6 separate regions of the Homo sapiens genome follow, and regions 1, 2, 4, 5 and 6 are each reported to be linked to region 3. Evidence: microRNA targets listed by miRTarBase, many of them from high-throughput screens and not tested one by one. Region 3 holds a microRNA gene; each other region holds the end of a gene's coding sequence.

What was found. The annotated mature microRNA hsa-miR-6779-3p reads AAGCCCUGUCUCCUCCCAUCU and lies in region 3 at 1,743-1,763, opposite strand. An mRNA with a match to its seed (bases 2 to 7 or 8) in the 3' UTR can be bound and repressed. Matches are read on the target gene's strand: a 7mer-m8 pairs with bases 2 to 8, a 7mer-A1 pairs with bases 2 to 7 and ends in A, and an 8mer does both.
Region 1: the mRNA of KLHDC8B is a reported target of hsa-miR-6779-3p. Seed matches in the 3' UTR shown: 7mer-m8 at 3,502-3,508.
Region 2: the mRNA of TBC1D5 is a reported target of hsa-miR-6779-3p. Seed matches in the 3' UTR shown: 7mer-m8 at 620-626, 7mer-m8 at 977-983 and 7mer-m8 at 2,479-2,485.
Region 4: the mRNA of FOXH1 is a reported target of hsa-miR-6779-3p. Seed matches in the 3' UTR shown: 7mer-m8 at 745-751 and 7mer-m8 at 1,144-1,150.
Region 5: miRTarBase lists FAM193B as a target of hsa-miR-6779-3p. Seed matches in the 3' UTR shown: 7mer-m8 at 2,462-2,468.
Region 6: the mRNA of B3GNT7 is a reported target of hsa-miR-6779-3p. Seed matches in the 3' UTR shown: 7mer-A1 at 2,217-2,223.

The regions. Positions count from the first base shown.
Region 1 is chr3:49,174,878-49,179,933 of GRCh38, reverse strand. KLHDC8B (kelch domain containing 8B) reads right to left here. Exons shown (of 6, transcript NM_173546.3): 4 at 4,968-5,056; 5 at 4,771-4,872; 6 at 3,448-4,329. The coding sequence ends at 4,133. It overlaps CIMIP7 (ciliary microtubule inner protein 7), which reads left to right. Exons shown (of 4, transcript NM_001080528.3): 3 at 1,396-1,452; 4 at 1,882-2,300. The coding sequence ends at 2,298. Among named protein-coding and RNA genes, the nearest start is that of KLHDC8B, 5.8 kb to the right of the region's middle.
Region 2 is chr3:17,156,312-17,161,377 of GRCh38, reverse strand. TBC1D5 (TBC1 domain family member 5) reads left to right here. Exons shown (of 23, transcript NM_001349074.2): 23 at 122-4,210. The coding sequence ends at 415. Among named protein-coding and RNA genes, the nearest start is that of PLCL2-AS1, 100 kb to the right of the region's middle. RefSeq lists enhancers at 1,959-2,459, 2,460-2,960.
Region 3 is chr17:38,911,711-38,916,779 of GRCh38, reverse strand. It overlaps MIR6779 (microRNA 6779), which reads right to left and starts at 1,801; the gene lies at 1,738-1,801. LASP1 (LIM and SH3 protein 1) reads right to left here. Exons shown (of 7, transcript NM_006148.4): 5 at 2,305-2,455; 6 at 1,634-1,737. RefSeq lists a silencer at 1-105 and an enhancer at 3,909-4,868.
Region 4 is chr8:144,469,674-144,474,742 of GRCh38, reverse strand. It overlaps FOXH1 (forkhead box H1), which reads left to right. Exons shown (of 3, transcript NM_003923.3): 3 at 1-1,331. The coding sequence ends at 505. It overlaps KIFC2 (kinesin family member C2), which reads right to left. Exons shown (of 18, transcript NM_001369769.2): 13 at 2,697-2,801; 14 at 2,484-2,605; 15 at 2,259-2,382; 16 at 2,037-2,166; 17 at 1,692-1,948; 18 at 541-1,611. The coding sequence ends at 1,354. Among named protein-coding and RNA genes, the nearest start is that of FOXH1, 3.6 kb to the left of the region's middle. RefSeq lists enhancers at 1-443, 444-1,339 and a silencer at 2,242-2,301.
Region 5 is chr5:177,517,328-177,522,396 of GRCh38, reverse strand. FAM193B (family with sequence similarity 193 member B) reads left to right here. Exons shown (of 9, transcript NM_001190946.3): 8 at 326-423; 9 at 2,216-2,608. The coding sequence ends at 422. Among named protein-coding and RNA genes, the nearest start is that of DDX41, 2.9 kb to the right of the region's middle.
Region 6 is chr2:231,398,228-231,403,296 of GRCh38, reverse strand. B3GNT7 (UDP-GlcNAc:betaGal beta-1,3-N-acetylglucosaminyltransferase 7) reads right to left here. Exons shown (of 2, transcript NM_145236.3): 2 at 2,133-5,069. The coding sequence ends at 4,372. Among named protein-coding and RNA genes, the nearest start is that of B3GNT7, 5.1 kb to the right of the region's middle. RefSeq lists enhancers at 1,455-2,000, 3,642-4,187, 4,188-4,735, 4,988-5,069.

The DNA of each region.
Region 1 (5,056 bases), not on the chromosome of region 3:
ACTCCTGACCTCAGGTGATCCACCCGCCTCGGCCTCCCAAAGTGCTGGGATTACAGGTGTGAGCCACCGTGCCCAGCCTGTTTATTGATTTAACAGCAACATTTATTGAGCTGTGTCAGGCATTATTCTCAGTGCTGAAGTTATAGATGTGAGCAAGACAGACCGCCTTTGCCCACAAGCAGCTTATGTTTAATGGCGGGGCATGAGATGTTCTAATCAGTGGGGGTAACATCACATAGAACAATATAGTATGTTAGCAGGTGAAAAATGCAGGGTTAGGGTGATGGAACTATTGGCCTAGTGCTCAAGGAAGGAAAAGAGGGAGGTGTGAGGGAATTATATGGCCAGGAGAAGGAACAGGTGGTGCAAAGCCCTAAGTGGGAGCACCTGGTGTGTCTGAGGAGCAGTGAGGAAATCAGTGTGGCTGGAGGTAACAGAAGGACCAATATCATGTGGGTCTCACAGACCACTATGATGACTTTGGCTATCACAAATAGGAGGAACTGTTGTGGATTTTCAGCAAATGAGATGTGATCTCATTTATGTACTAACAGAATTATGCTGGCTGCTAAGCAGACAGCAGACTGGAGGGGTAAGTTTGAAAGCAGGGACACCAGGCAGGAAGCTCTTGCAATAATTCAGGCAAGAGAGTAATGTGGCTTGGATCGGGGAAAAGAGTGGGCATGCTGAGATGTGGTCTGGTCCTGGGCACATTTTGACCACAGTATCAACAGGATACTTGCATATTCAATGTGGGGTATGAGAGAAGAGAATCAAGGGGACTCAAGGTGTTTGACAGGATCTGGCTGCCGTGGTCTGAGCTGGGGGAGGCTATAGGTGGAGTGTGTCTGGGGATGACCCAAAGCTCAGTCATATGTTTGGAGATGCTCAATTAGGCATTTACATGGAGATGTGGAGTAGGCAGTTGTCTACTGAACCCAAAGTTCAGGAGAAAGTTTGAGCTGGAGATAGAAATTCCAGTTTTCAGATGGCATTTAGAGCCAAGAGGCTGGGTATGTTGATGGGGGAGTAAGTGTGGATGCAGGGGAGGAGAGGACTAGAGTCCTGGGCAATCAAGAGTTAAGGCCCAACTTGAAACTTGGCCACTGCTCCCCTGATGGGAGGATGTTCTAGCAGATGCCTCCTTATTGAGGACCCTCCTCAATAAGGGTTCCACGGGCTTCTGCTTCAGGGCAAGTCCCAGGTTGAGATATCCCAGGACTGAAGTGTTGCTTTAATTAGTCTCTGCCCTCTGTCTGTTGGCAGTTTAGCAGCTTAGGGGCAGTGGCTCCTGGTGACTTCCCTCCATTAAGGACCCTGAGGCAGTGATCCAGGTAAGGGTGGGTAAATAAGCATCATTTTCCCCATTCACCTTCTTTCTCACTGTCTTTCAAGGAGCCGGCGCAGCGACACTTCTTCTCCAAGCACGACAACCGTACTTCCTTTGACAAAGTGAGTGCCGAAGACAGGAAGAATGGCAGGCAGTCCCCCAGCCTAAGCTGAAGTCTGGACAGAGCAGATGGTAGGGTGGAGGGGATGACACTGAGGGAGGGCTCCTTATGAAGGCAGAGGAGTGGCTGTCTTCCCCCACAAACTTTCTCCTCTGGGAAACAGCCTATTCCCCCAAACAGAGACATCTCTATGTTGGTTTCCTCTGCCAACTTGCCAGACAATATGCAAGTATCCTGTGGGCCACTAACTTTCTGGGTGCTTCACCTTAGAATGAAAGACATCACTGGGGAGGCAGGCCAAGGAGGCCAGGGTACAGGCCAAGACAGCCAGGCATAGGACAGGTATCACCAAGCAGACTTGGGGTTAGGAGGGGCCCAAGAAGGTGCTTGGTGCCAGGAATGTGGGCCAAGGGCCCATACCGTTGAGGAGGGTCCCTATTGCCTGCTGCAGGGAATCGGAAGGCGGAAGGACCTGGAGCGCCTGTGGCAGCGGCACACCTTCCTGCGCTGGGCACCCTGTGAGATAGAGTTGCGCCAGCAGGGGCCCCTGGAATCTTCTTACCAGGCTGATTTCAGGCCAGGCCCAGGACTCAGTGGCCTCCCCCAGCACCTCATCCACTTTGTGCAGGTCCAGCCTTCCCATACCAGGACCACCTACCAGCAGAACTTCTGCTGCCCATCCCAGGGTGGCCACTATGGCAGCTACAAGGTAGGGCCCCAGGCGCCGGTCACTGACGTACTGCCTGACCTCCCAGGGATCCCAAGACCCAAGCTGCTGCAGCACTACCTTCATGCTGGGGTCTCTGAGTGTCTAAACTGGTCCAGAGCATTAAACAAGGACAGCTGACACAGCAGCCTGTCTGTGCTTGCAGCCCACAATGGGATGTAGCCCAAGAGGCTGAAAGGTAGTAGTAGGCTGCCAGGTCCTGTGCCTGTCTCCCATGGCACTTGTGCCCATGGTGTGTTTCTGTGCTGGGCATGGGAGGTGCTGCTCTGGGATCCCTGCCACTAAGTGAGAAAGGGTAAGGCCTGCAGGAGGCTAAGAGTCCAGGAGGATTGCTATAGCCACATCAGGTGGGTTCCAGGGCCCCAAGTACTACTCTGTTCTTGCAGTAAACCCAGCTGTAGAGAGGAAGATTAGAGGGCAGTCCCCAGCCTAAGTTGAAGTCAGGACAGAGCAGGTGGCAGGGTGAAGGGGGTGACACTGAGGGAGGGCTCCTTATGAAGGCAGCGGAGTGACTAACTTCCCCACAACCTTTCTCCTCTGGGAAACAGCCCATTCCCCCAGAGACATCTCTGTGTTGGTTTCCTCTGCCAGCGTGCCAGACAATGTGCAAATATCCTGTGGGCCACTGACTTTCTAGGTGCTTCACCCTAGAATGAAAGGCATCACTGGGGAAGCAGGTCAAGTACTCAGTTTAGCTATGGGGAAAGCAGACCCCAGAGACCAGTACTAGTGGGCGACAAAGGCTGGAAGAAGGAAGAGTTGGCAGCTTTCTCAGGAGGCAGCTGCCTTTGAGGGGTTTGTTGGGTGGCCACACAGTCCTGTCCAAGAGACGGCTGCCCCACAGCTGAGACAGAAAGAGACTGCCCTGGGCCACAGAACCCACTGCACCACCCCTCCCTGTGGGGGTGAGCAGAGACCCTAAGGAGACACTCTGTAACTTGGATCTGGAGGTCTTCCTAACCTTGTGGTATTCTGTTGTTTTCTGAGCACTTCTCTGGTCATCTTATCCTGCCATCCTTTGGTGACATGTGACAGCCCTTCCTTACTGCCCTAGTGCTCTCTAATCCCCAGGACAGTAAGGAGGCGCTGTCATCACATGTTGCCAAAGAATAAGCTGAGGCTCAGATGGAACAGAAACACCAAATCACTTTGGGAACACCGACCAGATCCAAGAGGCTCCTTCTGGACCCTCATCCCTAGGGGCATTGAGACCCCCAAAGGAAGGCAGGGGCAGTGGAAACAAGGGAGTTCACACCAGGGTCCACACACTAGGTTTTAGCAGCACTTTTACTTCCACATCCAAACTCCCTGGGTCCTCACAACAGCCCTGTGAGGTAGGTAGGGTAGGAAGGTTTCAGAGATCCCCATTTATAGATGAGGATGCTGAGGCACAGAGAGGTGAAGTGACTTGTCCAAGGTCATACAACCAGCAGTGTAGAGGGCTCAAAGCCAGCATTCCTCCACTTGAACTCCTGCGCTCCGGCCCTCTGGCAGTTCCCACATCCTCTCTATTCTCTCTGTGTCCCCCACCCTCTCAACTCTCCTGGGTCTGCAGGGACCCTAAAGGCAGCCTGGCAGCTGAGATTTTTCAGGAATGGCAACTGGGGTAGGCCTGGTCAACTCCAGATAGGAACTGACCCTGAAGAGCATGAGGCCAGCTTTGCTTCTCCCCATTTCCCAGTTGGATGGAAGGCCTAGTAGGTCCCAGGGCAAGGATGGAGCTAGGCATGATTCATGAACGAATGGTGATAAAGGTAGGTGTAAGCATATGTGTGTCCTGCACTAAAGACAAAGGCTCCCCTAACCCAAGGCCCCAAGGCAGTGTTTCAAGTGCTCACCCCCATGCCTCTCTCATCCCACAGAGCCACAGTGAGTGTCCTCAGCAGCAAAAGGAGCCATAGAAATAGCTGCCTCTGGCAATGAGCTGCTCCAGTGGACAGCTCCCACCAAGCCTTCAGACCCCATCACGCAGACACAGTGCCTCCACGGCTTGACTGGGGCCCTGGGCCACACCCCCAATAACAAACAGCCGGGGCCCAGCCTGCAGACTAGAGCAGGAGCAGCGGGCAGTGGGCATGGCAGGCAATGCCTCCCAGCGCCGCCGTGCAAGGCTAAAGCTCTCCACAGAGCCCAAAGGACATGGCTGGTTTCCTGCAAGAAGGAGAGAGAAGGCTGTGAGAGGCACAGGCCGTAGGGACTCCAGGCCCTTCTGCTCCCTAAGCCCAGAGAATAGCCCAGTAGTTATCACCCCAGGATGAGCTATCAGGGCCTTGCTCCTCATTGCCTATGTTCATCATTTGTTCATTCATTTATGTTTCTATATGTTCTCTTGACTGTGCATACAGTGGTCATTTGTCCTGCTGCTGTCTCGTAGACCCTTGCTGGTGCTTGACAGAGCCCCCAGTCACTGAGGAACACCCTGAGTGCTGGGCCAGGCAGACCACATCCTGCCTACTTCATAGATAGGGAAAAGAGCTCACAAAGCCCTGACCCCTGGAGTGCCTGGAGATGGGCAGAAGGTGACACACATGCTGGGGGCTAGTCTTTCCTGTCTTGGGACTCCCTCCTCTCCCCAGCCCCATAGAGACTTACCAAGGCCCCCAATGGCCACAATGTGGCCCCCAAGGGACCCAACCACAAAGTCTGCCCTCTTATCCCTCATGCGCAGGCTGCGGGGCAATTTGGTCCAGGACCCTGCAGGAGAGGGGAGGTCAGATCTAGTCATGTACACACTATGCCCCTCCATCCCACAGAGAGCGGGAGGACAGCCCAGAACAGCCACTGCTCACCATGCTCCAGGTCAAACATCTCCACAGTGTTGACAAAGTGTGGGCGAGAGTAGAAGTTGTGGGGCCCAGGCTGCTGCAGGCCACCCAGG
Region 2 (5,066 bases), not on the chromosome of region 3:
TCGAATGTAGGGTGAGGTGGCCTAGCTTTCCACCACGAGTCCCCCAGTTCACAGGGCCTTCCACTCAGTTCTTTGCCAGTTTCTTCTTTCATCCACCTGTACTTCTGACTGTACTTCACAGGCCTCTTCAGAAACGCCAGGGTGCACTGATAGAGGGAATTCCGATGACTTCATCCTGATTTCCAAAGATGATGATGGGAGCAGTGCCAGGGGCTCCTTCTCCGGCCAGGCCCAGCCTCTTCGCACCCTCAGAAGCACCTCTGGGAAAAGCCAGGCCCCAGTCTGCTCCCCACTGGTGTTCTCAGATCCACTGATGGGCCCAGCCTCAGCTTCCTCCAGCAACCCCAGCTCCAGTCCTGATGACGACAGCAGCAAGGACTCTGGCTTCACCATTGTGAGTCCCCTGGACATCTGACCACAGTGCCCAGTCCTGCCCCACAGGGATCTAGCCACCCTTCAGTGGCCCCAAGGCCAGACTGAGGCTCATCCAGTGGAGAACCTTCTTAAACCACTGCTTCCTTCCCGGCATGCATTTTGCATTGGTCCAGCCCTTTGAAACCCCTTAGAGAGAAGCATATATGGCCACAAAGCACAGAGGCTTAGGTTTGCCACATGCAGACAGGGCTTTCTGGGCCCTTACCTAATCCCCACCCGACTCTTGCTCTGAGTTAGAGCTGAGTTACGTACCCAGTATCACACTCACAGTTAGAAAAGACCGAATCACAATTTAGAATCACTTTTCCTCTGTCCCCTTCTCCCCAGCTAAGAATGTGTGGCACCTCCATCAGTTATACTTAGAAGGAGCAGAAATAGTTATTTTCGTATCTTCTATCCCTCAAAGCATCAGACATGGGAAAATTGGTTTATACCAAGAAAGCTTCCTCTGTGGAAATCTGTCTCAGCCTACTTTATTCCTGCATTGGGAAGCCATATCGCAGAGCTAAATGCAATAGAATGAACCAGAACTAGTGGATTCCAGGGCTGGGGGAAAAAAAAAAAGAAAAAACCTCATTACTGACCTCTCAAAGTTATAAGGATCTCTGCAAACAGGATCTAAGCTTAGGAATAATATTTAGGTGTGATATAGTGTTAGATTTTTTTGATGTATTAAAGAATGCATCTCCAATCCTTAGGCCATATCAACTTTGGCCATCAATATCTCTCCTTAAACAATTATATTTCACCTTTTAGAATCTTTCATAGCCAGAAAACAAGATTACTGTAAGCCAGTTTTAGCTGCACTGATTTCAAAAGATATAAGAATATTACTATCCTTCAAATGGAAAATGCGACCTTGACTTTATGGGATAAACATCTTTCAGACAGTCAGTTTTCTAGTCAGGTTTCTCTGGTTTCAGAGCTGTATATACCTGTCAACTGAGGAATAAAGGGAAAAACCCAAGTTCATTCCCACCCAAAGTCAGAATCCCTCATTGGCCTTAAGGTAGCAGTCATAAGACAGAGAATTGGACCTAGAGTCCCTTCTGTGGGGAATAAGGATACCTAGAGAACATTCCACATGCCAAGAGGATGCAGGATTTCTACACAACCCCTTCCCTTCTTGGAAGTCAAGTGTAGGTACTGCAGGGCCTGTGCTCAGCTGTGAACCCCGTATCCTGGGCCCCACTGCCGGGACCGGGTCTGACATGCCAGTGCCTTCCTGGGCTGAGCACAGATTAGAGACTCTCCCCCTTGTCAGTCAGCACCTTAGGAAACCATGATGGGCACAGAGCATCACATGAGCTGTTTCTCTCCTTAAAGAAGATCCCTGGAAAGGATGCTTTTCCTCTCCTTTGCCTGCGCAGGAATTCTAACAGGAGTGGGTGAGGATGGCAGAGGGACACAGTGCCTGTCTCGCCTCCATCAGGGAGAGCAGCCATGCCAGGGATGACTAGCTCTTTGAGCCTGTCCTCAGAGGATGGCGAGGCAGCCGGGCAGTGGAGGCCTTCATGGTAACAAATGAAAGCTCAGTATAGAGGAACAGACACTGTTTACGTCCCTCCCACTGCTAACCTTATATATCTCTATAGACAAATGTGATAATGACATGATTTCCCACCTGCCCTCCAAGAAAATGGTGACTCACTCTCAAGTCAGCTACTGTAGAGAGGGTTCTAATTGGTTCTGCAATTTGCTCTTAAACTCTAGCAGGGAACTCTCCTCTTACCACATCAGCATGTAAGGTGAATAATAACTGGTTTTGCCAGACAGCAGGTTGTCTGACCTTCAACCACTGGGCAATTGCCTGGCAGATGCACACAGTAGCTCCCTGGCTTCTGGCTCTGAGTGTTCCTCTCAGCACCTCTGAGTAAGCTGCTGCCAAGCACATATCCCTATGACAACACTTTGTAAAAGCCGCGGGGCCCCCATACAGCGAGTGACCTTGCAACTGTGCAGGGTTGCCATTGGTCACTTTCTCACCTTGGGAAGGTGTCAGTGTTTTCAGTTCTAAGGTAAGAGGTGTAGAGCTGTTCCCACCAGGGCTCTGGGACAGACTGGAAAGGACCACAGACCTGGCCATCCCTGGGCAGCAGGGCCAGTGTCACCTGCTGACCTCTAGTATTTCCTTTGCCCTAGAGCTAGAGTCATGATAGCTGAGGGTCACTCGCCCTGCAAGAGTCACTAGGCACCCACCATGCCAATAAGGCTCTCCGCTGGCTCCCTGCAGTTGGCTGGGTGTTTAATAGTCACTGAAAACTCCCAGCCCTGCTGCACACTAGAGGCAGGTCCTCTCGGTCCTCTCCATCCTGTGCTTCTGTGGCCCCCAGCAAGCTCACCACCTCCTTGGAGGAGAGAGACATACAAGGACAGTGGGTCATGGGTAGTACCAGCCTCAAATTCCCACAGGCTCATACTCAGACAATTGTATTACTGCCTTATGTTTTTTAAGTGTTTTTTTAAATTCTTCATAGTTGAGTATTATTTGCAATTTTATTAGTTACAGTGCTATTAAAGAATATGTGCTCCTTTTTATTATATTATCAGATACTTATGTTTAATTGTACATTTTTTAAATCCTGAATATATTGTGTTTTGTTAACAAATGTAATCAGTGGAACCCTTCTTACGTTTTGATTATTAGCAGTTAAATACATTTTGTATACATGAAGCTTAGATTAATTCCCATCATCATCATCTCCTGTTTTTATATGTGTCCCTATGTGTTTCATGCATTCCTCTTTGATCAGATTGGAATTTGAGTTAAAATTTAGCTTTGTACATTACGTGTGAGAGTTACAGACTAGCAAGTCTAATTACTTTGCCTTACCTTGAGTGTATGCCACAGGGTCAGATAACACATTAAACATTTAGTTACACTGGATTACTCTTCCAAAGCTGACCTCCTGCTAATGTTCAGAGGTAACTGCAATCCGGAAAGAAATAATATCACTGCAGAAAGAATGTGACTCTAAAAATAAACCAGGACCTCCCTGTGATTTGCCTTGCCTGCAGATGACCAGTTGACTCTTGTGCTGTCAGCCCTGGGGTTGCTAAGGAAGCTGCTTCAGGGAGTTGGGGGTTAGTTGCCCGCTCTCAACAGGAATGCCTCCTCTACTTTGTCAGAGATGCTGAACAAATATCAAACTCTGTGGCAGTCATGCTGGCCTCCTAAGAATAACCTGTGAGTCAGAGTTGATGCACATTATTTTTGTTTTTATTTTATTTTTTTAAGGAACTGCTCCAAGGGTTCATTATAGAACAGGAGTGTGTACGGAGGACTTAGGTCCCCACATAGAGTGGCCGTTCTGTGGCGGCTCCAACCAATTCCATCCCTCCTTTCCTGCGGACACACACCTGGCCCCTGGCCCCTGCCCTGTGTGTCTGGAGGAGGGGCACTGGGGAGGCTGTGGAGCAGAGAGAAGAGGCCGGATACATTGAGGATGGCACCTGGCAAGCCAGGCTTCCTTCTCAAAGGCCAGACTGCTTTCTCAGTGTTACTTACTAAAGCTCTCTTTTTATACTGTTAAAAAGATATATAAAGTTCGTATAAACAGGCTTGAGACCACTTTGATGTAAAAGCTGTCATAGTAGTTTTTCTCACAGTGGCACAATTCATTTGATTGATGGAATATTCAGTGACGCCATGTATGCCCTATCGCTTTTTTCTCATCCATCTTTATGCTATAACTCATACTGATTTAAGAAATGATTTCTCCTTTTGGCAAAGCGACCCCATTCAATATGGTTATAATAAAAGACTAATGTCAAACTGAGACTATAGCTTGACTTATTCCAGGCCACGCGTTGGGGCACAAGGTGCTGACCAGGCCCGGCCCAGAGGAGTCCCTCGGAGTGCATAGCCAGGTGGGGCGTGGACGATGGAACCATGTCCCAGCCCGGACGCAGAGGTTGGTCCAGCCCCAGCACTGTGGTCCAGCCTCACATCACCACTGGGCAGGTCCTAGGCCTCGCCCAGGGCTCACACCCAACTCTGACATTCCCTTCCTCTCTAACTTGGGCTAGTTTCTTAACTTCTGGGGCCTCAGTTTCCTTATCTGCAAACTGAAGAGAGTAGTCACCTAGTTCATAGGGTGTGGTGGGGATTGAAGAGGATAACAATTGAAAGGACTTAGCACAGAGCCTGACATACCATGAAATGCCCGACAGTTTCAAAGACGATGCTTAATTCTGGAAGAGCCCCTGGAGGTCATGTAGTCCTACCCCGACCATTGACAGCCAGGACCTCAGAGGCTGCTGGGAGGCCCGGGTCGCACCCTGAGGCAGCCCTGCTCAGCCCACTGGTCCAAGAGACCATTTTGGGGGCAGCCCCAGTGGCTTGCTATCCATCAGCGCCAGGTTTGCCCTGGTAGCTGCACTTCCACCAATCCAATGTGGGATTGGTGAAAAGGCCACAGGTGAGGTTGGGGGAAAGGTGAGTATAGTCTTAAGTGACAAACTAGGAGGGATGGGGAGGGGGATCTCTATAGCTTAGGCAGAGCCATCATGCCAATGGCAGCTTAGAATTTGCACCTGGGCCCATCTCTAGCCTGGGCCTCTGTCCCCAACCCAGCTAGCAAGTAGCTTTTCCTCTTGTGGGGCACAGCCCCTCCCCACAGGTTCTACCA
Region 3 (5,069 bases):
AAGCAATTCTCCTGCCTCAGCCTCCCGAGTAGCTGGGATTATGAACATGCACCACCATGCCGAGCTAATTTTATATTTTTAGTAGAGACAGGGTTTCACCATGTTGGCCAGGCTGGTTTCGAACTCCTGACCTCAGGTGATCTGCCCACTTTGGCCTCCCAAAGTGCTGGGATTACAGGTGTGAGCCATCGCACCCGGCCAAATGTCTTTTTTCTTTGGAGATATTGCTCTGTCACCCAGGCTGGAGTGCAATAGTGCAATCTTGGCTCACTGCAACCTCTGCCTCTCGGGTTCAAGCAATTCTACTGCCTCAGCCTCCCGAGTAGCTGGGATTACAGGTTACAGGCATACACCACCACACCTGGCTAATTTTTGTATTTTTGGTAGACAGGGGGTTTCACCATGTTGGCCAGGCTGATCTCGAACTCCTGACCTCAAGTGACCTGCCCGCCTTGGCCTCCCAAAGTGCTGGGATTACAGGCGTGAGCCACCACCCCCGGCCAAATGTCTTAATCCAGCTGCTTTCTATCCATCCCTCACCCTGCTGTCTTTCTCTTCACAGCGTGTCACCGCTGACCTTATGTTATACACCTATTTTCTTATTGTTTTCTTGTTTGTCCCCCTGACTGGAATGTAAGCCCCCAGAGGGCAGAGAGGTGGCTTTATATTCAGAGATGGACCCTACACATCCAGGACAGACCCATTGAGGAGGGAGGGACTGGCTGGGCTGCCTGGAACCTTATACTTCAGACTAACTCTTGCGCCCACAGTGCCCTGGGCAGTCCTAACATCCCTTTGTTTGTGTGCCCAGAGCATCAGACTCCAGCCAGCCATTATCTCAGGCGATTTTATCTCTCTAAGTATCTGTTCTGCTCCTACGTGAGCTACTTTGAATTCCCAGGCACCCAGCCTGGAGGCGCTGAGCCTGCCAGGAGCTTGGTAAGGGTGGCTCAGCGGCACCCATGGGTGGAGTGAGTGGCAGGACTTACAGAGCCGGGACTTCAGCTCTGAGGGCTCAGGAAGCCTGATCTCACCCCATTCCTGCTGGGCTTATTCACTTGCTCTAGGCCTGGCTCAGAGTAGGTGAACCAGACGGACGCTGCCAGGGTCCCCAGCCCAGCAGGGGACACAGAGAAGGTGACCAACACGAAGAGCTCTTTTTAGTTGGAAAAAGTGCTCTGAAGGCAGCCAGCGGAGTCGAGTGATGCAAAGCATCAGGGTGATGCGCTTTACACGACATGGCTGGGGAGGCCCCTCAGAGGCAGGGGCAGCCTGAGAGCTGAAGGATGTGGGGGCCATCCTCATGAAGCGAGGAGAGCAGCGCCCAGTGCTGGAAGGCCCCATGCAGAAAGTTGCCTTGTGTGTTCCCAGGTAGCTGGGGTAAGGAAACCCCACCCAAAGCAGGGTGAGCAACCTGCCCATGGTACACCAGGGCTGGAACGCAGGGCCCCAGTCCCAGCCAGCCTCTGCCCACTACGCCAACCAATTTCCTCTCTGCTCACAAGGCTGAGATCCTTATCATCACACACAACAGAGGGTGGGTGCAAAGGTCAGGAGAATCCATGAGCTGTGTCCAAGCCTTCCCGAAGGACCCCCTGCCTCTGGCCTCTCCCCTCCGGCCAGGGTTACTCACCCCGCCACCACCTGGGGCGCTGCGCTGTATGGAGACTGGGGCTGCAGGCTCCTTGTAGCCACCATAGGACTGGGCCACCGGCTGCTGCTGGGGCTGCTGGTAAACTGGAAGATGGGAGGAGACAGGGCTTGGAAACTGTCCTGCCAAACCCAGCCCCTCCCAGAGCTCCCGAGAAGTCCATACCATGCACTTCCACCCCGCCCCCAACCTGGCTCAAGCCCCACAGCTCAAAGGCTGATGTCCACGTGTGCACATTTGCCTGTGTGTTGTATCCCACGCAGGGGCTCTGAGCCCCATGACCTGGGGGCCTCTCCTTTCAATCCTCTTGGCCCAGTACAGGCCTGACCCTGGTGCTCACGTCCTCATTCTGGATGAGAATGGAACTTGGGGTCTTGGGAAGCAGTCTTTTCCTCGCCTGCATGCGTGCGTGCATGTGTGTGTGTGTGTGTGTGTGTGTGTGTGTGTGTGTCTGTCTCTCGCCGACTTCCTCCCCACCCCAGCTGGCCCGGCCTCAGGTCCTCTGGTCCCCTCTTGCACACAAGAGGCATAATCGCCTGTTGATTAAGAGCAAGGCTCCGGAAGGTGTATCTGTCTGTCTGTCTTCTCCTGGCTTCCTCCCCACCCCACTGGCCTCGCCTCAGGTCATCTGCACCAACAGGACCTGCACTCACCCGGGGCACTGGTCGGGATGTGGTGAGGCTGCTGCTGCTCCAGGGGCCGCCGGTAGCTGCTGCCGTCCTGTGAATCCCGACGCTCTGGCTCCATGCCCTCGCCCCCGCTAGGGCCCATGCGGCTCTTCTCAAACTCCTCATGGTATTTTATCTGCAAGGTCAGAAGGCACTAGGTGAAGGGTCCCACTGCAAACCACCCAGTTCCTTCCCGTGACCCTCAAGATCCCAGGATGGGAGAGACTACCCAAGAGCTTTGGGTACAGAAAGCCAGGTCTCGCTCTGGAAGCACCAGCTGTGTGTCCTTGGACAAGCTACCTAATCTTGCCAAGCCTCAGTTTTCACCTCTGCAAAATGAGACACCAGTCTCCCTCAGACACTGTTGGAGAATGCAATGAAATGACCGATGTAAAAGGACCATGAGAACTGAAGAATCAGACCAAAGTGAGTGGTCCCTTTTCTTTTTTTTTTTTTTTCGAGACGGAGTTTGGCTCTGTCGCCCAGGCTGGAGTGCAATGGTACGATCTCAGCTCACCGCAACCTCCACCTCCAGGGTTCAAGTGATTCTCCTGCCTCAGCCTCCTGGGCGGCTGGGATTACAGGCGCCTGCCACTACGCCCAGCTAATTTTTTGTATTTTAATAGAGACAGGGTTTCATCATGTTGACCAGGCTGGTCTCAAACTCCTGACCTCAGGTGATCCACCCGCCTCGGCCTCCCAAAGTGCTGGGATTACAGGCGTGAGCCACCGTGACCGGCCAAGTGGTCACTTTTATATGCCTGCGGCAGGGGCGGGGCTGCTCTGTTTCCGCCTGGGTCCACAGTAACCACAGCAGCAGCCCGTTTCCTGAGCTCTTACTGCGCCAGGGCCGTGCTAGGTGTTTTATGTCACAGGCTCATGTGAGCTCGTCAGCGCCCCTGAGGGGTAGATTGCAGACCCCATGTAACAGGCAAGAAGGAAGCGAAGGGATTGATAAGTGAAGTGAGTGGCCCAAGATCACAGATTCCAGAGCCTTGCTCTTCATCAACAGGCGATTCCACCTCTTGTGTGCAAGATGTCGTGGGTACTACAGCCTAGGATGCTCCGCTGAGAATCCCAGCCTTTAGGGATAAAAACTGCCAGACCCTCCCTGAGGGCGGGACATTGTCTTGGATGGGCTCCTTCTCGGGTCAGGTTCCAAAAATGAGCAGAGAGGCCCAAAGAAGTCATATCCCTCAGGACCACCCCACTAGGCGGGCATGTGAGGCTCCAAGCCTTCAAGTCAGTCTCTTGCCCCCACAGTGCTCTACTGGCTACAGAGTCCCCCACCTTGACCACCACCACCCAGGAGTCTTGAGTTGGGCCTCATGTTGTTTGAGGGCTGTGACTGTGCCTGCCTGGGGCTGGCTGCATTAGCCATCAAGGTCAGGAGGGCAGGGGAGGCAGGTGCCCACCAAGCCAAGCTGGGGAGGGGAGGGAAGCTGCACTCTGCCCAGACCCCTTGGGTGCTATGGTGGAGGACTTGGCCAGTTTGGGGGAACCAGAGCCCCTGCTACCTCCATCAGAGACCTAAGCAGGGTCAGCCAGAGGAAGCCCCACCTCCACTACCAGAAAGAAACCTCAGGGTCAACTGGCCCATTTGTGTCCAGAGCCTCGGCGCCAGCTCAGTCCTCTTAGCCAACTGAGTTAGAGAGAAATGGTCGTTCATTCACCTTGTCTTCTTCAGGCTGAGTCCCATGGTGGGACGAGAACACCGGCCTCGGTGTTCCCTGCTAGATCCAGATCCTGATTGGCCCCAGGCTTCCTCCACCTCCCATCCCCCATGGCACCTTCTCCAGACACAAGCCCTTTCCTCCTCTCAGGTCTGAAAACTGTCCAGATGGCCTTCTGGGGCTGTGCCAGACTCCCAAAGACAGGCCTGCCAAGGTCTCCTGGATCTCAGCCCAAGAGCCAGACCCTGGAGAATCACGGGTGACTCCTTGTGCTTGCGGCACCCTGACCCTGTGGCAACCAGATCCTGCGGCACCCTGGCCCAGCGGCACCCTGGCCCTACCCTGACCCTGTGGCACCCTGGCCCTACTCTGACCCTATGGCACCCTGGCCCTACCCTGACCCTGTGGCACCCTGGCCCTGTGGCAATCTGACCCTGCGGCACCCTTGCTCCCTCTCTCCTTCCTCCAGCCGCTCCATGCGGCGTAAGGCCCACACTTTCACATCTCATGTGCCTGGATCCAGCTGCTCTAGCCCCACCTGGGCCAGCCCAGAACCGGCCCCTGGGCCCATATGGGACAGGGGAAAAGTCAAGGTCCCTATTCCCAGGCACGCATATATCAGGTGGGTTTTGAGGCCTGATATATGTAGTTCTTGAGGCAGCAAGAACTACACCACAAGAAAGGCGGGTGGTGAGGCCGAGCACGGTGGATCACGCCTGTAATCCCAGAACTTTGGGAGGCCAAGGTGGGTGGGTCACTTGAGGTCAGGAGTTCGAGACCAGCCTGGCCAACTTGGTGAAACCCTGTCTCTACTAAAACTACAAAAATTAGCTGGGTGTGGTGACGGGCGCCTATAATCCCAGCTACGCGGGAGGCTGAGGCAAAAGGATAGCTTGAACCTGGGAGGCAGAGGTTGCGGTGAGCCAAGATCATGCCACTATACTCCAGCCTGGGTGACAGAGTGAGACTCCGTGACTCTGTCTCAAAATGAAAAAAAAAAGACAAGTCATAAAGCCTCACATACATATCTCATTGCCTCAAATGGGAAAAGACCTCCAGGTGAGCCTATTTATGGGG
Region 4 (5,069 bases), not on the chromosome of region 3:
CAGTGGGGAGGAGGCGGTGCCCACCCCACCCCTTCCCTCTTCTGAGAGGCCTCTGTGGCCCCTCTGCCCCCTTCCTGGCCCCACGAGAGTGGAGGGGGAGACTGTGCAGGGGGGAGCCATCGGGCCCTCAACCCTCTCCCCAGAGCCTAGGGCCTGGCCTCTCCACTTACTGCAGGGCACCGCAGTTCCTGGGGGACGGTCCAGCGGGGGACACAGGGCCTCCCTCTGGGGGCAGCTGCCCACCTCCTACTTGCCTATCTACACTCCCAATGTGGTAATGCCCTTGGCACCACCACCCACCTCCTGTCCCCAGTGTCCGTCAACCAGCCCTGCCTACTGGGGGGTGGCCCCTGAAACCCGAGGGCCCCCAGGGCTGCTCTGCGATCTAGACGCCCTCTTCCAAGGGGTGCCACCCAACAAAAGCATCTACGACGTTTGGGTCAGCCACCCTCGGGACCTGGCGGCCCCTGGCCCAGGCTGGCTGCTCTCCTGGTGCAGCCTGTGAGGCTCTTAAGACAGGGGCCACTCCTCCCTCCCGCTCCCACCCCCACCTTGTTGACAGGGAGCCAAGGCGAGGCGGCTGTCTGCGACCACAGCAGCCTCGAAACACCAGGCAGCAGCCTTGCTGGGAGTCCACGGTGTTTATTGGGCCACCCCACGCATGGCCGTGGCCCAGCTGGGCACAACCCTCACCCTGGTCTGTCATGCCTGTTTTTCCTACACTCAGCGGCAAAGCTGCAGGAGCAGGGCTGAGCCTGGAATAGCCCTTCCTAGTCCCCTCTTCTCAGCCCACTACCCATCCATCAGTCACCAGCCGTCACCTCCCCTCCCGTGCTCCAGGCTGGGGGAGGGAGAGCCCAGTGGTGGATCCAGCCTGAAGTCCTGCCCTCTCTCATCTGTCTGGAAAGGAGGTAGCACCTTTTTCGGGAAACGGGTTAGGGAGTAAAGACTGCACCCTACATGGTCCTGGTGGTGGGGGGGATAACAGTAAAGGAATTTGCAACGTTTTAATGCCATGCCTGATTTTTGGGTCAGGAGTGGTGACTTGGGTAACCACTTGGCGGGGGGGCCTGGGATTCCCTGCTGTGTGCCGTGATAACAGCAAATGGTGATAAGGAGAAAGCCAAGACCTGTGGCCTGATGCAGGGCTGGGGGCGGGGGGTGATCACTTCAGCAGGCACAACACACTTCACTGGCTGCGGAGGTGGAGGGGTGACTCTGGGAGCTCAGGGGCAATGGATCCAAAGAGGCTAGGGAGCTTGTGCCCTGGGAGACGGGGTACAGGGACTTTACTACCGCCTCTGCCAGCAGAGACCTGGCCTGAGACCCCATGGGCAGGGCCGCGACCCAGGACTAGAGGGGCAGGCCCTCTGCGGGCGCGAGAGCCGAGCCCGAGCCGTTGTCGGGACTGGGGCATGGAGGACTGCCAGGGGACGGCGTAGGGGTGCAGGGGGTCCCGGTGAGCGGAGTGTCGGTGCTGAGGGAAGAAGGCGTCCCGGAGGAGCGCGGGACCCTGCGGCGCCGGGCTGGCCCCAGCTCCACTTGACCCACTCGGTCGGCGAACTTGAGGGAGCAGACTGTCTCCCCGAGATCCTCCGGCCGCGTGGAGATCTGCGGGCAAGAGGCGCGGGTGGGCGGGCCCGGGTGGGCGGCGACCGGCACGCACACACCTGCCCCGCCCCGGCGCCCACCTGCAGCAGCAGCACCGCGGTGGTGCCTGGGCCCAGCGCCGGCTGCAGCAGTCGCGTGAGCTGCGAGTCGCGGAAGGGCACGTGCGGCCGGTGGGCCCGCAGTGCGGCCATCACGCCTCCTAGCGCCAGCAGCGAGCGGTTTATGGTCTGGGCCTCCCGCAGGCGCCGGGCGCCGTCTGGGTCTCCCCGCGGCGGGCCGGCCGCCCCTGCCTTCCGTGCGCGTTCGGATCCCGCCAGGTCCACCAGGTGCAGCGTGCCTAGAGGGGCGAGCGAGCCCGACATGGGGGAAGGCCGGGCCTCGGGTGCTCTGGAGACTCCGCAGGGCTCAGGCACCGGCCGTGGTACCTGCGGTGCCTGGAGCGCGCGGTGGAGACGCCGCGCGCAGCGTCAGCGTGACCAGGGCATGCGAGCGGGAGCTGCGCTGGTTCATGGCGGTGGCGGCGGTGGCCCGGTTGCTCCTCCCCAGTTTCAGCATCTGGAAGGCGGGGCGAAGGGCTGGTCAGGTGCAGGGTCCCCGCCCCCAAGTGGAAGCACGGGGCGGGGTCTCGGAGAGCGGTGCAGCCCTACCTGGTGCAATGTCTCCAGGTTGGGCACGTCCCAGTGGGTGAGGCCAGCCACCTGGATCCCGCCCTGGCCTTCTGGGCCCTGCCTCACGGCCAGGCGCTCGGGAGGCCCTGGAGCAAGGAGGTCCCTGGTGAGAAAGGGGAAGGTCTTGGTTCCAGAATTCTCTGGAAATCCGGAAGGGCCCTGGGCCAGGGGTGGGGAGAAGGCCTCCCTGGTGGAGTAGCCCACCTGACAGCCTCATTGTAGATCTCCACCATGCTGAGTGTCACCCGGTGCTGCCGGCCGGCCCCCATCTCCCGGAACAGCGACTGCAGCGCCCTAGGAACTATGCCGGGGTCCTCAGGAGGGCCCTGAGGATGGGGTGGGGTGCACACCGGGCTCACATCCAAGTCATGCAGGGCCCCTGGGGCCTCTCCCACTGGGGCGTGAGCTCTGTCCCACCTCCATGCTGTAGGTCTTCCCGGTGCCTGTCTGGCCATAGGTGAAGATGCAGACGCTGTAGCCTCGGAGGCAGGACAGCACCGCAGGTTCCAGCTCTCTGAAGACCTGCGGGAGGCGGGAGAATGTGTTTTGAGTCCTCCCCACGTTGCCTGTTTATGCCCTATTTGGTGGGGTGGGGAGTGCCACGAAGGCAGGTGTGAGCAGAGCCTAGTCTCCTGGGAGGATGGCTCTAAGGGACCATGGGGGAGGGTGTGTCCTACAGAGACCCTCTGTCTCCCTAGAGAAGGTGGTGCTTGCAAGAATTTGCCAGGCAAAGAAGGGAAAAGACACAATGAGAAGAGGAACAGCCTATGCAGAGGCTCTGGAGTCCTGAAGACCACGTAGGAGACCTGGGGACAGCAGTTAAGAGCGCAGGTGTGGTGTCCTTAATGTGGAAGCCAACGTGAAAAAAAGAAAAATAAATCCCAGCATTTTGAGAGGCCAAGGAGGGTGGATTGGTTGAGCTCCGGAGTTTGAGACCAGCCTAGGCAATACGGTGAAATCCCGTCTGTACAAAAACTACAAAAAAATTAGCCAGGCATGGTGTTGCACATCTGTGGTCCCAGCTACTCGGGAGGCTGAGGTGGAAGGATCTCTTGAGCCCAGGAAGCAGAGGTTGTAGTGACCTGAGATTGCACCACTGCACTCCAGCCTGATGACAAAGTGTGACTGTCCAAAAAAAAAAAAATACATATACATATATATGTAGTAAAAAATTTTAAAAATGTTTAAAAGAGCCCAGATGGGCTGGGCGAGGTGGCTCACGCCTGTAAACCCAGCACTTTGGGAGGCCAAGGCAGGCAGATCACAAGGTCAGGAGTTCAAGACCAGCCTGGCAAACGCGGTGAAACCCCTGTCTCTACTAAAAATACAAAAATTAGCCGAGCATGGTGGCACGCACCTGTAATCCCAGCTACTTCGGAGGCTGAAGCAGGAGAATTGCTTGAACCCAGGAGGCGGAGGTTGCAGTGAGCCGAGATCACACCACTGCACTACAGCCTGGGCAACAGAGTGGGATTCCATCTCAAAAATAAAGAAAAAAAAAAGAGCCCAGATGTTGGGGCGTGACTGCACGGTTCAAACCTGGGTATGATTGGAGCTTACTCATTGGCCTTCCTGTGCCTCACTTTCCCCTGAGAGATAAGGGCTGCAGTGGCACCTGCTGTGAACACTTGTGGCAGTGCACCTAGAGGGCCGGCCACACCAGTACCTGGCTCACAAGGCGTGACCCCAGGAAGGGCCTGCAGGTACGGGGGATGGTGGCCAGCCAGGCCTGCTGGAGCCCAGGCACAGACAGGTGCTGAGAGAGACACAAGGTTAGGACATTCACCCCATTGGCACTGGACACCAACAGTCTTTTGAGCAACAACATGGCTGGCTTTTATGCCCAGAAGGTCGCTGCTAACAGGGTGGGCTGTCAGCTCTGTTTGAAGACAGCCACAAGGCTAGAATCTAGAATTCTGTGTTCTGTGTGGTCACTGAGGTTCCATGATTGGATGGAGGTGGCACTGAGGATGACATTCAGGAGCACATCATGGCACCACTGCAGAAACAGGAACACAGATGAGGGGCTTGTCCACAGATGCCTTTGGTTCAGACACATTGACTGAGAGGACCCTGTCCAGGACGGCTGTCCAGAGGACGGTGCACAAGGCATGCCCTGCGCAGTGCTGCAGTGTGGGGTGGGGCTAAGGCCAGAGGGATGTGTGGGATGAAGGAAGAAGTGGTTGGAAAAGAGGCAATCAGGGTGACCCTGGCCACCTGCTGGGCAGTCGTCCCCCTGTCCCTGTGAGGCTGGCAGGCAGCCTGGTTGGGAGTCGCTGCCATTCTGCCCCTTACCTAGTCTCCCCTGGCTCTGAGCTGCCATCTCCTTAGCTATGGGAGCTGTAGCAGCAAAGGGCATGTGCAGATGAAAACGTGTGTGAAAGTGGGGTGGGCTGGGGCTGAAGCCCCTGCTTTTCCACAGGTGTCTGGCAGGAAAAGGGTGGGGAAGGAGAGTGGGATCCAGGCAAGGCAGAGAGAGCACACTAAGACTAGAAGGTTGCCTCCTCACCCACGGCCCCCACCACCCACCGCCTGCCTTGGGGCCATAAAGCAATGAGGGGCCCTCATAGCTGGGCAAACCCTGGACCCCAGCAAAGGGGAGTGGGCAGGCAGTGAAGCCTGGGAGGAGGAGGCACCAAGCTGGGCTGCCTGCCCTGCTTCCCAGCCCCCTCGGTTCCCTTTCCTTCCTGGCTAGAGCCCAGCCACCCTCTCTCCTCCAGGTGGACACCCAGACTGGGAAGGGGAAACTGGAGCCTCTCCTGCTCTTCAGGGAACTCTGAAAAAGGGTCA
Region 5 (5,069 bases), not on the chromosome of region 3:
TAATCCCCAGCAGATTCAGAGGGACGACTGTACTTAAGGGAATGACGGAAGCCAGCCTAGCAGAGCTAGAGAATCAAACACCAGATGAGGAGGAACTGGAATCCCAAGGCAGTTTCACTGTCTTCATACATAGTTCCCTGGGCCCAATCCAGAAGCCCCCAAGCCAGCAAAGCTCCTATGCCTGCTAAACCCTAGCACCTGAGAGCCAAAGAGGTTTTGTAGAGAACCTGGTCTCTTAGTGATGGGGACATGGTACCTTAGGAGTCCAGTGAGCAAAAGAATGAACCTCTGATTGTGCTTCTCATGTGTCCCCCAAACCCAACAGGTTCTGTTTGGATTCTGCAAAGCAGACTCGTCAGAAAGTTGCTGTGAACTGGACCAACTTCAGCCTCAAGAAAACCACTCCTAGCACAGCTCAGTGAGGTACAGAGACCCCAAGAGTTACATCCACTGCCTCTCCCTGTGCTTGGCCACCCTCTCTGTACGCTCACCAGACCATTCTGTGCTCTGGGGCACAGGGAGTTGGACTTGGGGCATGGGATCCCTGGCTTCTGTCTGCATCTTCACAGCAATGGCAGGCTACAGCCTCCAAAGGTCAAGGCCCCATCTCCTCCCGCAGCCACTCACCTGTAGGCCTCTGTTCTATTACTCCTCCCTGGGCCCTGCTGCCCATGCTCCTGAAGGTCCCCTTCCTGGACTGGCATCTCCTAAGGCATAACCATCAGGGTCTTAACCAGCTGATTTCAAAAGTGCCCAGGTAGCCATCAGACCCATGGGGCTGCCCTCACCCCTGATGTTATCAGTCCTTGTGTCAAGTCCCACTTCCTGCCCTGGGCTCCTCAGTGTAGGCTACCAAGGTACTTCCCAGCTGAAGCAGTATAAGAAGGGGCCAGCCCTGAGTGAACATCGTGGGTCATTTAGGCATGGAGGAGTTGATGGGGGCTACCCAAAGCAGGGCAAGCTCCATGAGGATATTGGTAGCCACAGTGCCTCCTAGAGGAAGAGACCTGGGTGCCAGATGGCATTGGCATCCCCTCCCAGCCACCCACACAGGTCCTTTTGTCTGAAACAATGATGTACCAGATGATGATCTGGACTGGGAACAGACAACTGGAGAAGGCACTGGGCCTGGAACCCTATTGATGAAGAGAAGGGCAGCTAGCAGGCAGACCTTGGGCTGGGGGCTGAGTGGCTCTGCAGTTTCATATCTCAACCCTCAGCTGTGTCCCTGGGGTCAGGCCTTTTCCGGCTGGCAACCACACAGCTGTCCTGGAGACTGGAAGGCTGGGGCAGGCAGACTGAGCTCACAAACAACTCACTTCCCCCATGATGGCCCCACCTGTCTTTCTCCTCTTTCCAGTGCCAGGCCAGCTCCTCTCTGGGCCTAAGCAGCAAACTTCCTGGACCCTCAGCTCCCCAGGGGCAGCTCAGAGAGCCTGCAGCCAGGACAGCCTTCAGAGCTGGGGCTCCCTGTGACCCTTGTGCTGCCCCAGAGTCCAGACTGTCTTCTTTACACTCACTTTAGTCCTCCTCTCCTCTGAAGGGGTTGGGCTCAGTCAGCCCCCTTTGCCAAACTGAGATGCCCACAAGCCCCAGAAGTATCTTCCAGATCCAAGGTGGCCTCCTGCCTCTTCTCCACCTCCATGGGAACCAGGAGTAGCAGGAACCCCAGGCACTTCATCTGTTATCCCTACTGAGAGAAAAGAGATCGCATTTCCTCCCACAAGCCCAGTTCTGTCATTCAAGAAATCAAATGCAACTGTCTCCTTCCACTGCCTCCTCTTGACCCTTTTTCACCTGGTCTGGCCTCTTTTCCAAGATAGAAGATGCCCCTCTCCCCACCCCCTAGTAAGCGCTCTCCTTTGAGCCTCTTCACCCTCCCCCGGGCTGTGCACCTACAGTCAGAGGCAGGAGCACAGCTGCACAGCTGGCCTCCCAGCCCCTGCTGATGGACAGCAAGTGCCAAAGGCTGGATCTACTCAAGGATTGTCCCCCACCTTGTCAGGATCCTGGGACTGGGGCTCTGTCTCCCAACCCGTTAACCTGCATCCTCTGCTACAGGTGATCCAGGGAATCTTCAACATTTTCAGCCCAGGGAACAAAAATAGCAGCCAGCTGTTTCTGCTACCAGAGACCCATGGGTACCCAAGTGGCATGGGGAGGCTGGAGCATGGCTCATTGCTTACTGTGATTCTGCTCTTTTTTTCTTTCTCAGGCCCTGCCCAGGCTGAGCTGCTTCAGGGCGTCCTGAGGCCCTGACTGCCAGCTGAAGGCGTATAATTTTTCCCTCCGTGTGCCCCACCTACCCGTCCAAGACCCTCTGTGCTCCCCACCATCCTGGACCAACCAAAAGCTGAACGGATGCCACACTGTGCTGGGGCCCCTTGACCTCAGCAGAGCCGCTTCCTGGTGCTACGCAGCCTCCACACTCAGAGCCCGTGGACTGGGCTGGCCTAAGGGCCAGGGCTGATGGTACTGCTGGCCCAACACTGCTCTCTTTGTGTTTGGTTTTTTTGTTTTTGTTTTTATTTTGTTTTTTTCCAATTCTTTACTTTTGATACTGTGAAGATCTTTCGTGCCGAAAGATAAAGCAACATTTGGACACAGAGTTGGCATGTTGGTGATTTGTGGGTCTGGGCGGGGAGGGAGTTGAGGGTGTGCTCAGAAGCATGGGCTCTCCCTTAGTCACTAACCCTAGCATGCACCATGCATCAGCAGTTTGGTGCTATTGTCCCATTTTACAGGTGAGGAAACTAAAGCCGATAGGAAAGTGACTCAGCTCAACTTAGTCTGGCTGATTAGCATTGAGCGCAGACTGGTATGATTATGGCATCTGTGCCCTTTTCTCCTTTTGGGAGGTCTCTGGTATGTGAGCCTGGGGCAGCCCCTTCCCCACTCTTTCCTGTTTCCCTCTTTGCAAGATGGGTGAGTTGGAGGGGTTGAAGATGGTCTCTGTGCATCTGGATGTGAGAAGAGGTCTAGGAAAGACCCTGAGGCCTTCATGGATCTGTAGCCTGGGCCATCGAGGCCCCTCACACTGACTTCACAGTCAGGGGAAGTTGGGGGTAAATTGAGTTTTTTATAAATTAGATCTGATTTTCCAGTGGGGGTGGGACATGTAGCTGAGGGCTTGAGAGTTAAGAGGATAATGAACTCTTCTGTAAAGTCAAGCAAACTACCTCATCCCCCGAAATGGATCTGGTTTGTAAATTTGGATTTTAATACAATGAGTTTTCCCAAAATGCCCCTGACACACTTGTGTCCAAACTCCATGCCCCAAATTTAGTTTTCGCTCCTAAAACCAACTCGAGGTTATGTGGGGAGCTAACAGGGTCACTAAGAGCCATGTATTTGGGTGTTGTGAGCAGGACCAGAAACCATGTCCTCCATCCCTCCCAGGTTGAGACCCACCATGGGACTGGCAGTAAGCACCAGCTTATTTTTTTTATAGAGATGGGGTCTTGCTATGTTGTCCAAGCTGGTCTTGAACTCCTGGCTTCAAGCGATCCTCCTGCCTTGGCCTCCCAGAGAGCTGGGATTACAGGAATGAGCCACTGTGCCCAGCCTAAGCTTTCTTTACTAAAGAAGACTTCATGAATTCCTGTGTATCCTTCACATCCCAGCTAAGAGGCCATTGTACTGTGAAAACTATGACACTTCGAAAAGCGGTACCTTGTCTTAGGATCTTTCTCTTTAAGACCAGTTATCTGTCTATATTTCTAGTCTCAATCTACATAAGCTCCTCGCACACCAGGTATGTGTCTTGATTATCATCTGCTTGAGCGCAGTGCCAGCGCCCAGCACACACTCTTGAAGGCAAGAAAGCACAGAGCTGACCAAGTCATTCCTTAGAAGTCTCTAATAAAGTTGAAACCACTTACTCTGACAGTCACAGCAGGCATGCTCTGGTCGCAATCTCCTTTTCTGGCCTTAGGTCTGGCTTCCCCATCCCACCCTTGCCGCAATGCTGTTGCCTAGTGAATCTGTGTACTTGCACATCGCCAGACCTGTATTCCTGCAGCGCCCTGGCCCAGGACGCCTCTCCTCTCCCGGCCTGAGATTGCCATGTATTTGGGTGTTGTGAGCAGGACCAGAAACCATGTCCTCCTCCATCCCTCCCAGGTTGAGACCCACCATGGGACTGGCAGTAAGCACCAGCTTATTTTTTTTATAGAGATGGGGTCTTGCTATGTTGTCCAAGCTGGTCTTGAACTCCTGGCTTCAAGCGATCCTCCTGCCTTGGCCTCCCAGAGAGCTGGGATTACAGGAATGAGCCACTGTGCCCAGCCTAAGCTTTCTTTACTAAAGAAGACTTCATGAATTCCTGTGTATCCTTCACATCCCAGCTAAGAGGCCATTGTACTGTGAAAACTATGACACTTCGAAAAGCGGTACCTTGTCTTAGGATCTTTCTCTTTAAGACCAGTTATCTGTCTATATTTCTAGTCTCAATCTACATAAGCTCCTCGCACACCAGGTATGTGTCTTGATTATCATCTGCTTGAGCGCAGTGCCAGCGCCCAGCACACACTCTTGAAGGCAAGAAAGCACAGAGCTGACCAAGTCATTCCTTAGAAGTCTCTAATAAAGTTGAAACCACTTACTCTGACAGTCACAGCAGGCATGCTCTGGTCGCAATCTCCTTTTCTGGCCTTAGGTCTGGCTTCCCCATCCCACCCTTGCCGCAATGCTGTTGCCTGGTGAATCTGTGTACTTGCACATCGCCAGACCTGTATTCCTGCAGCGCCCTGGCCCAGGACGCCTCTCCTCTCCCGGCCTGAGATTGCCACGCTTCCCTGGAAGCGCCCCCCAGGCAGCTCTGTTAGAGCATTTACAGTAATAACCGTTTACATTTATACAGGGCCTCCCACTTCAAAACCACTGCCATCCGTATCTGATGCGTGCCCCACCAGTGAACGTATGTGTCACACAGGCGCAGTCAGGGAGGCAGGGTGTGTCGAGCGGTTTATCCCGCAACCCCGGCGTCCCCGGCAGGGATGAAAGCGCAGGGCCCACGCGAACTCGGCCCGCAGCTCCCGGCCCTAGAGGACGCACTGTCCGCCGGCAGG
Region 6 (5,069 bases), not on the chromosome of region 3:
CTCCAAGTCACCTTGTTTTCCTTTTAGCTGGGGGCATTTGTTCTTCCAATATCCTATTTCTTTACAATAAGCACACTGGTTACACTGCAAGCTCTGACAGCCAGGCTGAGTCTCTTTCCCGGGTCCCCCCTTCCCTTGCCTCTTTGAGGAGACCCCTCCGACTGCTGCAGCTAACAGCTCGGCGTTTCGCCGGGCCTGACGTTCATTCTCTCTGCGGTTTTCCTTAGGGCTTACTGCATCCCTGTTTACAAACACCTGGTTAGCTACTTCTAATAACTGTGATGTGTTCGTCCCTGCAAACCCATCCTGTTTCTGCAGTTTTCTTCTAATGTCTTCTGCGCTTTGACTAACTAAAGCCATGTTAACCATTCGCTGATTTTCAGGGCTAACGGGATCAAAGGGAGTATACATACGATAGCCCTCACACAGTCTCTGGTAGAATTGTGCTGGACTTTCTTCTTTTTCCCCGAATGACCTCAGAGACCTTGTTAACGTTTGTGGCCTTCTGGGCTCCCCTCTTTAATCCTTCCAAGACAGCTTCCCTGTCTCGGTTTAGCCTTTGCATATCCTCTCTTTCATTTGGATCCCACTGGGGGTCAGTTCCTGGTAACTGGGTCCTTACACACTCTTGGGGGTTTTGGTAATCAGCCGGTGCATGTTCCTGTACCCACTTAGTTGCTGCTTGGAGCACTCTCTGCCTTTCATCTGTGTTAAAGAGGAACATGAGCAACTGGTGGCAATCAGCTCAAGTGGAGTTATGGGTCTGGATAATAGTTTGGAGCAAATCAATTAGAGCTTGTGGTTTTTCAGTATAGGACAGGGTATTGTTTTTCCAATTGAGAAGGTTGGCAGAGGTGAAGGGCTGGTACACAAAAACACGCTTCTCCACCATGTGACCATCCTCCTCTATCCCAGTATACCGCTGCTCTCTCAGGGGCATTTGTATCCCAGTTTTGGGTCTTAAACAAGCTGCCAAGGGAGGGGTTTCTCCTGAGGCTTCACCTCCTCTCTTGTCTACTCTGGGTGGCCTAGGGATATGTTTGTCTTACGGAGGCACAAGCACTGTGGGCTCAAAAGTAGGGAGCCTCTCTGCCTGGTAAGGGGAGGGCAGCACTGGGATCACTGGTGCCATCTCCTGCAATGGATCTTCTGATGTTGGGTCGAACAGAACTTCAGGAGTTGATTTCCCCCAGTGGGTAGAGCGGGATCCTTCCTTGGCTATCTGTCCCTTTGCTACTAGCACTGCTGCTGCCTGCCCTCTTAGCCACTGTGGGGGGTCTTGCACCAGCTGTAGTAACCAAGTGTCTATGTATGGGAACTGGTCTGAGTGTCCTGACTTACCAGTTACCTTGTGCCATACCTTAGAAATAAGGGACCTGTCCAGGCTTCCTTCTGATGGCCAACCCACTTCTAATGTTGGCCGATCTATTTCACACAAAATTCTGTTTCCCTGGTGTCATAGTAACCCCATAGTCTCCGTTAAATCCCTTCTTAAAATTTTTCAACATAGTTCCTAGCGGAGTAGGCTTACCTTGTGTCTGACCCGTGTTTCCTTGAGACAAAACACCAAGCTCACACCGCACGCACACCACAGAACAAAGAATGGGTAAAAAGGGCACACACACACTTTTTCAGTTTACACCAAACCAGAATCAAAACCAAACCCAGAGTATCCAGAAATCCAAGCCAGGTCAAAACCAAAACCAAAGTATCAAGCAATTCAAGTCAAGTCAAAAACAAAAACCAAAGTGCCGGTACAGGCACACCGTGGGTGATCAGGACATGCTTCCACTCAAATGGAGTGGGCAAGTTCCAAAGACCAGTCTTACCAAGTTTCAGATGTCCGGGCTCCAAGTGCCCGTTCCTTCAGCCACTGTGCTGATCCTCCACGGGGGCCTGCCACACACTGCTCTGACGAGGTGTTCCACCCGTCAAGAGCATTGCCTACCCGGGAGTGCTCTCAGGATCTGCGTAGCTCAAGCTGGCCACAGTCCCCCGCAGGGATGCTCCACAGGGCAGGCCTAAGCCGCCTAAGGGGCCGCCTCGACCGTCCGTCAATTACCTCGCTTCCCGGTCAGGGAACCAAGAAATGTAGCAGGATGAGTCCCAGACAAAACTCCTCAGACACCGGATTAAAGAAGGAAGAGGTTTTTATTCGGCCGGGAGCGTCGGCAGACTCGCGTCTTAAGAGCCGAGCTCCCCGAAAAAGAAATTCCTAGCCCTTTTAAGAGCTTACAACTCTAAGGGGTCCACGTGAAAGGGTCATAATAGATCAAGTAAGCGTGAGGAACGTGACTGGGGGCTACACACATCAGCTAATAGGACAAAAAGTTTTACGGTGCTTTCTCACACAATGTCTGGGATTTACAGATAACACCAGTCGTTTTGGTCAGGGGTTAATATTATTATCATTTTAACCACCAGGGCCAGGTGGTGGCGCCAAGGTCGTCTAGCTATTTATCTTACTTCTGTTTCTTTCCAGCTTTTTGCTTTCTCCCTTTTCTCCTGTCTTATAAACTAGGGAAAAGGGGAGGTTGGGGAGAAGCTGGGAAGGACAACAGGAGAAGTGGTGGTCTCATTCCATAGCAGTAGCGCTGTCCCCTTTTCCTTCCTGGGCATCTGAACCCCCTGGGATTCCCCTGAGCTGGGTGCAGGCACGGAGCTGCTGGCTGGCTTGCTCATACTGCTGTCTGAGTGACTCTTCTCCTGGGGGTAGCTCCCTCCCCACCCTGGAGGTCAGCAGCTTGGGCCAAGGTCCCTGGCACAGGGCCATAAGCTATTTCAGTGCTTTCAGGTTGCCTGGAAGGGATGTCAGGGAGCCCACCGGCCTCTGTACGGCCGACCTAATCTCACCCACTGAAACATTAGCCTCGGGGCCAACTCTGGCCTCACCCTTGGCAGGGACAGGAAGGCACTGGCTCACGCTAGAGCCACAGCTCGGCTGTCCACCAGGGCACAGTCAAGGGCTGGGTGCATTGCTAGCTCCCAGGTTTTTCTGTTGCCGTACTCCCATCCCCACTTTAATCCTAGCACTCAGCCCCGTCTAAATCCCTTCCAGAAGTCCTTGTGCACCCACCAGCCAAGAACAAGGAACAAGCTGTGTCTTCAGAAATCTCTGGCAACCTTGGCCCCAGACAGGCTCTCTGATGCAGCTGGGAACAGGAAGTTTCACACCAAAAAAAAAAAAAAAAAAAAAAAAAAGTCCCATTTTATTGAGAAAATAGTGTCAATCCCTCCATCTTTCCTAGGTGACTCCCGCTGAGGTAGGAGGTGGCAACCTTCTGCACCCACCCCCACAGCTGATCCATCCCTTCACCGGGGCAGATGCTGGTCTGCTAGGCCCTGGAGAAGCAGGGTGCGGTGGGGCAGGGCTCTGGAGGGGGCTGGGCTGTGAGGGGCCTGGGGGTGCTGAGGGCAGGCAGCTGGAATGAGGGGAGGGAAGGGAGGAGGGCCAGGGAGGACACCACCCCCTCCTGAAGCCTGGAGCCTTCTCCCTCCAAATTCTTCATAAATAAAACTTCACAGTAATAGAGGAATGTCCACTTCCAGGGCCAAACCGGCTGCTTTCCAGCCAGGGAGCCAGGCCTGGGGGTGTGGGGGCTGCGGGAGAGACTTGCCTGGGGTGGGGGTCAGCAGCTCTGGGACTTCGGGGGGCCAGGAGCGCTGCTCTTCTGCCCTGTGTCGGGGTGGGGTAGGGCTGCAGCCCCAGGGAGATTCTGAGGGGCGCTGAGGTAGTCAGAGCGGTCGCCCTTCCAGACCTTACAGGACACAGCCAGGAGTGGAGGCCCTGTGGCAGAGGCGGCCCGTCTCCAGGCAGGCCTGGGGCTGCGGAGAGCCGGCTGGGCCCTCTCTCCCAGGAGACCAGGGTGTGGACTGGGGGGTGCCTGTGAGCCCGCACAGGGTTGAGTTTCTCCTGCCAGGGCCGCCCGGCCTCTGGGGAGACTGAGGCATTTCACAGAAGACTCTTCCCTGTGAAGACGAGGGGCGGCCACAGACCCATCAGGCCAGGCCTAGCCCAGGTACCTGAGCACAGCGTTCCTCCAGAGGTCACCAGGACCTCCCACCACATCTGAGGGGGCCAGCAACGGACCCAGGTCAGGAGGGCTGCCAGGGCCTGGCGCCTCGCTCCTCAGAGAGGGCCTCCAGACTGGGCAGCTCCAACCGTTCCTGGGCCTCAGTTTCCTAGAATTATCCACACAGGGAGGTCCCTTTCTGGCTACCTGCACCCCACCACACCCAGTGGCACGTAGGCCTCAACCCTCCACCTCCCCTTGGGGACCAAAGGCTAGGCCTGGGCACTGTGGCTCCAGCCCCAATACCATGGGGGCTCAGGAGCAAGTGCCCTGGCCTGTCCTAGTAGCCCGGCTGGGGTCAGAGCACCTGGAGCTTGCGGGAGCAGGTGAGATTGCTGTGCACCAGCCCCCACATGGCGAGCAGCTCAGGGGGCAGCAGCTTGTGCACCACGAGCATGGCGCGGAAAAAGCACGGCTCCTTGTTCATGCGGCTGTTGCGGTTCCGGGAGATGCCGAAAGTCTTGAAGCCCTCGTGGGCCGTGGGCTGCACGCCCAGCACCTCCAGGCACATGCCCAGAAAGACGTCGTCGATCGGGTAGAGCTCCAGGGTGTCGCAGGCATGGTGCAGGCGCCGGGCCAGGCTGCCGGCCATGAGGAAGCCACCGCCGCCTGCATACGGCGGATAGCTGGCCTTGCCGTACAGGGCCCCCGGGATGTAGTATTTGTTGTCTTTCCTGCGAATGGGCCGAGCGTGCTGCAGGACATCGCCCACGAACAGGTTTTCCTGTGGCTGCCGGTCAGCCAGAAATTCTAGCAGGTTGGTGGGGTTGACGAAGACGTCATCGTCGCCTTTGAAAATGAAGGGGACGTGGGGGCAGTAGATGTCCAGCCACTTGAGGAAGTGGATCTCCTTGAGGGTCAGGTTGAAGAAGGTGTCGAGAAAGCCCCACTGCAGGATGTCGCCGTAGAGGCGGTCTTCGTAGGCCAGCAGCTGCTGGTAGTGCGTGCGCTCCTCCTGCTTGGAGGCCGTGCCCAGCAGGAAGAGGGTGCGCACGG